2 separate regions of the Homo sapiens genome follow, and region 2 is linked to region 1. Evidence: fine-mapped expression QTL. A gene starts in region 1. The other region holds a variant in brackets. All regions are shown on one strand. Distances are between the middles of the regions. Region 1 holds the start of LINC00659 (long intergenic non-protein coding RNA 659). Region 2 overlaps HELZ2 (helicase with zinc finger 2).

What was found. PIP is the estimated chance that this variant, and not a neighbour inherited with it, causes the effect. A credible set is the group of variants that fine-mapping cannot tell apart.
Region 2: its variant is the best candidate, but not a certain one, in a credible set for the expression of LINC00659 in naive CD8 T cells (Schmiedel 2018, PIP 0.54).

The regions. Positions count from the first base shown.
Region 1 is chr20:62,775,223-62,778,118 of GRCh38, reverse strand. LINC00659 (long intergenic non-protein coding RNA 659) reads left to right here and starts at 1,263. Exons shown (of 3, transcript NR_046225.1): 1 at 1,263-1,313; 2 at 2,733-2,804. RefSeq lists a silencer at 1,795-1,956.
Region 2 is chr20:63,558,497-63,561,392 of GRCh38, reverse strand. HELZ2 (helicase with zinc finger 2) reads left to right here. Exons shown (of 20, transcript NM_001037335.2): 14 at 1-43; 15 at 119-311; 16 at 464-598; 17 at 696-914; 18 at 1,066-1,222; 19 at 1,298-1,465; 20 at 2,023-2,896. The coding sequence ends at 2,147. Among named protein-coding and RNA genes, the nearest start is that of FNDC11, 5.8 kb to the right of the region's middle. The variant T/C (reference allele first, on the strand shown) is at 1,425.

The sequences.
Region 1 (2,896 bases):
AGGCCGGGGACCACGCCATCAGACAGGCTGGGGACCACACCTTCAGACAGGCTGGGGACCACACCATCAAATAGACCAGGGACCAAGCCATCAGACAGGCCGGGGACCACACCATCAGACAGGCTGGGGACCACACCATCAGACAGACCGGGGACCATGCCATCAGACAGGCCGGGGACCACGCCATCAGACAGGCCGGGGACCACGCCATCAGACAGACTGGGGACCACGCCATCAGACAGGCCGGGGACCATGCCATCAGACAGGCTGGGGACCACGCCATCAGGCAGGCTGGGGACCACGCCATCAGACATGCTGGGGACCACGCCATTAGATAGACTGGCCAGGGACCATGCCATCAGATAGGCTGGGGCAAAGCCATCAGACAGGTGGAGGTCCATGCCATGGGGCATGAGGTGGTGTCTGTCACCTGGTCCGGGAGCACAGTGTTGCCCATCCGTGCCACCTCCCTGAGGCCCTGGCAAGCATCATTCTCTAATGCAGACAGATGGCTGGGGCGCCAGCAGGAGCCAGACTGCCGCGGAGCAGGAACTGGGCAACTAAGGGTGATTTGGGCCGTAGAGAAGTGATTGATGTGGACAAATGGAGTCTGCAATGCAGGCCCCACGCCACCCTGGCTCCCTGTGCGAACCCAGGGCTCTGCTGCCCTGGCGGGGCTGACTCCATGGACGAGGTGGCTCATGTAGGGCTGGCTGGAAGTAATCATGTCACCCCCTGCAATCATGCCCCCAGGAGATTAGAATAGGACCCTGATCCCTCGTTTCTGTCCTATCCCCTCCTTTCCGTCCCATCTCCTCCTTTCTGCCTCATCTCCTCCTTCCTGCCTCATCTCCTCCTTCCTGCCTCATCTCCTTCCTGCCTCATCTCCTCCTTCCTGCCTCATCTCCTCCTTCCTGTCCCATTTCCTCCTTCCAGTCCCATCTCCTCCTTCCAGTCCTATCTCCTTCCTGCTCCCATCTCTTCCTTCCTGTCCCATTTCCTCCTTCCCGTTCCACCTCCCTGTTCCCATCTCCTCCTCCTGTCCCGCCCCCTCCTTCCTGTCCCGCCCCTCCTTCCTGTCCCACCCTCTCCTTCCTGTCCTGCCCCTCCTTCCTGTCCCGCCCCCTCCTTCCTGTCCCGCCCCTCCTTCCTGTCCCACCCCCTCCTTTCTGTACCTGTTGACCTCATCTGGGCTGCAGTTGGTGACTGCTCGAAGGGGTGGGAGGAACAGTATAAAGTCCTGTCCCCTTCCTGCCTTCAAGGGCACCCCTGAAGGACCATATCCACTGTGGACCCCCTTGGGATCAGCCGAGGTCTGTAGAGGTGACATTGCAGCCCAGCACCTCCCTCCTCCGCCCTGCCCTCCTCTGTCCTCCTTCCACAGGTGTGGCCAAGGGCACTGCCCAGTTGGCCTGTGACCCCCAGCTGAGGCTGCTTCCTGGGCAGCTGACTTCAAGTTTGTGACCTGAGCTCTCCAGGCCCCCGAGCGGCTGGTGCCTTGGCCCTGCAGTTCTGCGGCCAAGACTCCTCCTCTGGGATCTCGTCTTACCCTGCTGCGGGTGCCAGGGCTGCATGAAGCAAGGGCGAAAGTCCCCTTCGCCCGGGCGCTGCCCTCTGCCTGCTGTCCCCTGTGCTCCTGTTCCCCGTGGCTGCCCAGGGACAGGTGTGTGGGATGGAGGACGCGGGAGAGGCTGAGTCCTCCCCAGTGGACCCCCAGATGCAGACCCTGAGGCAAGGGAGAGTGAGAAAGTGAAGGAAAGAACACAGCTGGAAATGCAACCAAGAAGGAACCCCAGCCCGGACCACTGTGAGCAAGGAGAGCCGAGCCCCGGGGAGCCCTGAGACAGTGTGGGAGTGGAGGCCTGGGGCGCCTCCAGGCAAGGCAGCGGGATGTCTATGCCCCAAGCCCTGCCAGTCGTGGATGGAGACGCACACTTTAGTGCGGGCTCCAGAGACAGAGGGAGCCCCAGGCCGAGAGCTGTGGGTGCTGGGCAGGTGGGCATTGGCCAGCATTGCCCCCACTCATGGCGGGTCCACCTTAATTCGACGGGTGTGACACTCTCCTCACACATGTGCACATTCAAGAGGCAACTGTCTGTTTCTATAACTGGGTGCATTTCGGTCTGGAGCCGTCGAGCCGGGTGGTGGCCATGAATCCCAGGCAACTTGGGGGGCCCAATCCAGGGTTGCCTTTTGGGGGCCTTGGGGCGGCTAGTGCAGTTCCACATGCTGTTAAGGACCTTGAGATGGGAGATTATTCTGGATGGTCAGGGTGGGCACAGTTTAATCACAGCCCCTCTAAGAGGGACTGGGAGGGTCAGGGTCAGAGGAGGAGAGGGGACGACGGAAGGGAGAGAGAGGCTGGGAGATGCCGTGCAGCCAAGGAGGGCAGGAACCTCTAGAAACCACAAAAGGCGAGGACACAATCTCTCCCCTGAGGCAGAGACCCAGGGCTGCCCCGCACAGTCGCGCAGATCGTGTACTGCCCTGCTCCTGGGGCTCATTCACACAGGTTGCCATGGCTGTGGGGTCCCTGGGGCTGGGCTATCTGCCAACCTGGGGGACGCTGCACCCTGTTTTCTGTCCTGTCTACTCCAGCTTTTCACACTCTCTGTTGCCCTTGTCCTTGGGCATCTCAGTGACTCGAAGGAATTGGGTCTTGAGACACAGCCGAGCCTGTGAGCGCTGACCTGTGTAAAGAAGACACCAGAATGAGATGTCTCCACACACAGAGAGCTGCAGCCGATGCCGGCCGGTGACTTGGGACTTGGATGCTTAACAGGAGGCTCCCCCTCTCTTGGGAGGTGAGGATGGGGTTGGGAGCATGTGTCTCAGGGGCTGGCTTCACTCGCTCCTTAGCCCCAGCAGGTGCATCTCCCCCCTGCGAGGGCCTGGT
Region 2 (2,896 bases), 780 kb before region 1:
GGCTGCAGAGAGGGGAGCTCTTCTCCAGGGAGGACCTGGTCTGGTAAGTGGCAGGGGCCAGGGGGTGGAGCTGCCTGCAGCATGGGGGCCCTGGGGTGACAAGCAGTGTCCCCGGCAGGTACAAGAAGGTCTTGTGGGAGGCTCGGAAGTTCGAGCTGGACCGGCATGAGGTCATCCTCTGCACCTGCTCCTGTGCAGCCTCTGCCAGCCTCAAAATCCTGGACGTGAGGCAGATCCTTGTTGACGAGGCAGGCATGGCCACGGAACCTGAAACCCTCATCCCCCTGGTGCAGTTCCCACAGGCCGAGAAGGTTGGTCGGCGGGGGGTGTGGGCAGCATGAGCAGGCGTCCCTGGCACAGTCTCCCACCTGGGGTGCCCTGTGTGTGCAGACGCGGGTGTCGTGTGGGGCTGGGGTCCCTCTGGGTCTAGGGGTGTCAGGGCCAGGCCTGCCTATTCCTCCAGGTGGTTCTTCTCGGAGACCACAAGCAGCTGCGGCCTGTGGTCAAGAATGAGCGGCTGCAAAACCTGGGTCTGGACCGGTCTCTGTTCGAGCGGTACCACGAGGACGCACATATGCTGGACACTCAGTACCGCATGGTGAGCCCGCCCCACTCAGCCCCCAGCCCACCTGCAGCCCCTGGGGGGCCACAACCCCGCGTGGCAGCCTCTGACCAGCGCACATCCTTGCCTGCAGCATGAGGGCATCTGTGCCTTCCCCTCTGTGGCGTTCTACAAGAGCAAGCTGAAGACGTGGCAGGGCCTGAGGAGGCCGCCCAGTGTCCTGGGCCACGCTGGCAAGGAGAGCTGCCCTGTCATCTTTGGCCACGTGCAGGGCCACGAGCGGAGCCTGCTGGTGTCCACGGACGAAGGGAATGAGAACTCCAAGGCCAACCTGGAGGAGGTGGCTGAGGTGGTGAGTGTCTGGTGCCTGTGAGTCAGGGAGGGCTTTCTGGAGGAGGTGGCTGAGGTGGTGAGTGTCTGGTGCTTGTGAGTCAGGGAGGGCTTCCTGGAGGAGGGCAGGAGAGACACCAGGGTCCGCTCCACCTGCCCCCTCGGCTCCTCAGGTCCGTATCACCAAGCAGCTGACCCTGGGGAGGACCGTAGAGCCCCAGGACATCGCCGTCCTCACGCCCTACAACGCGCAGGCCTCTGAGATCAGCAAGGCCCTTCGGCGAGAGGGCATCGCCGGGGTGGCCGTGTCCTCCATCACCAAGAGCCAGGGTGAGGCTGGGGGCTCGTGGGTGGGGCCGGGAGGGTGGGCGCAGCGGCAGCAGGGCCTCACCTCCCATCCCGCAGGGAGCGAGTGGCGCTATGTGCTGGTGAGCACCGTCCGCACCTGTGCCAAGAGCGACCTGGACCAGCGGCCCACCAAGAGCTGGCTCAAGAAGTTTCTGGGCTTCGTTGTGGACCCCAACCAAGTGAA[T/C]GTGGCTGTCACGCGGGCCCAGGAGGGGCTCTGCCTGATCGGTGAGGGCGGGGCTGGGCTCTTCCAGGGTGGGAACACAGGTGAGGCCAGGGCTGGGCTAGGGAGCTGCCGACTCCTGCCTGACCCTGACTCCGACCTGACCCTGACTCCTCCCACCTGACCCTGACTCCTCCCACCTGACTCTGACTGACTCCCATCTGACCCTGACTCCTCCCACCTGACCCTGACTCCTCCCACCTGACCCTGACTGACTCCCACCTGACCCTGACTCCTCCCACCTGACCCTGACTCCGACCTGACCCTGACTCCTCCCACCTGACCCTGACTCCTCCCACCTGACTCTGACTGACTCCCATCTGACCCTGACTCCTCCCACCTGACCCTGACTCCTCCCACCTGACCCTGACTCCTCCCACCTGACCCTGACTCCTCCCACCTGACTCTGACTGACTCCCATCTGACCCTGACTCCTCCCACCTGACCCTGACTCCTCCCACCTGACCCTGACTGACTCCCACCTGACCCTGACTCCTCCCACCTGACCCTGACTCCTCCCACCTGACCCTGACTGACTCCCATCTGACTCCCACCCTCACAGGAGACCACCTCCTTCTGCGCTGCTGCCCCCTCTGGCGTAGCCTCCTGGACTTCTGCGAGGCTCAGCAGACCCTCGTGCCTGCCGGCCAGGTGCGCGTCTGCAGGAGGCCAACTATGCCTTCCTGAAGAGCCCTCTCCACCTGCAAGGTGCCAGGACTGGGAGGGAAAGTCCAGGGCCCCCCCACCCTCCCCACCACCCTCCGCCATCAGCCTGCCTGGGCCAGCCTGCCTCCTGGCCTCAGGATCTCCCTGGGGCAGGAAGTGGGTGGACTTGGAGGAGGAACGGCAAGGGCCGGTCCCCACACTCTTGCTCCTCCTGGGCATCTGGGGACAGGAACACCTCTCAGGGTGGCCAAGAGGGGCTTCCTTGGGACCAGTGCAAGGAAGTTCTGCTGTCCCTGGGAAGTCTCAGAACCAGGAAGGAAACCCTGTGGAGGCTGCCCTTTGACCTTTGGACGCCACCTGTAATCACTCTGGATGGTGTCTGTGGAGTTCAGGTTTATTTTCTATTTAAATGAACTAAAAGCCAGCATCCTGCCGGGCGTGGTGGCTCACGCCCATAATCCAGCACTTTGGGAAGCCGAGGCGGGCAGATCACCTGAGGTCAGGAGTTCGAGACCATCCTGGCCAACATGGTGAAACCCCGTCTCCACTAAAAATACAAAATTAGCTGGGCGTGGTGGCGGGCGCCTGTAATCCCAGCTACTTGGGAGGCTGAGGCAGGAGAATCGCTTGACTCCAGGAGGCGCAGGCTGCAGTGAGCTCTGATGGTACCACTGCACTCCAGCCTGGGTGACAGAGCGAGACCCTGTCTTAAAAAAAAAAACAAAACAAAACCAGCATCTGTTACTGGAACAGAGACCTCAGCCCAAGCT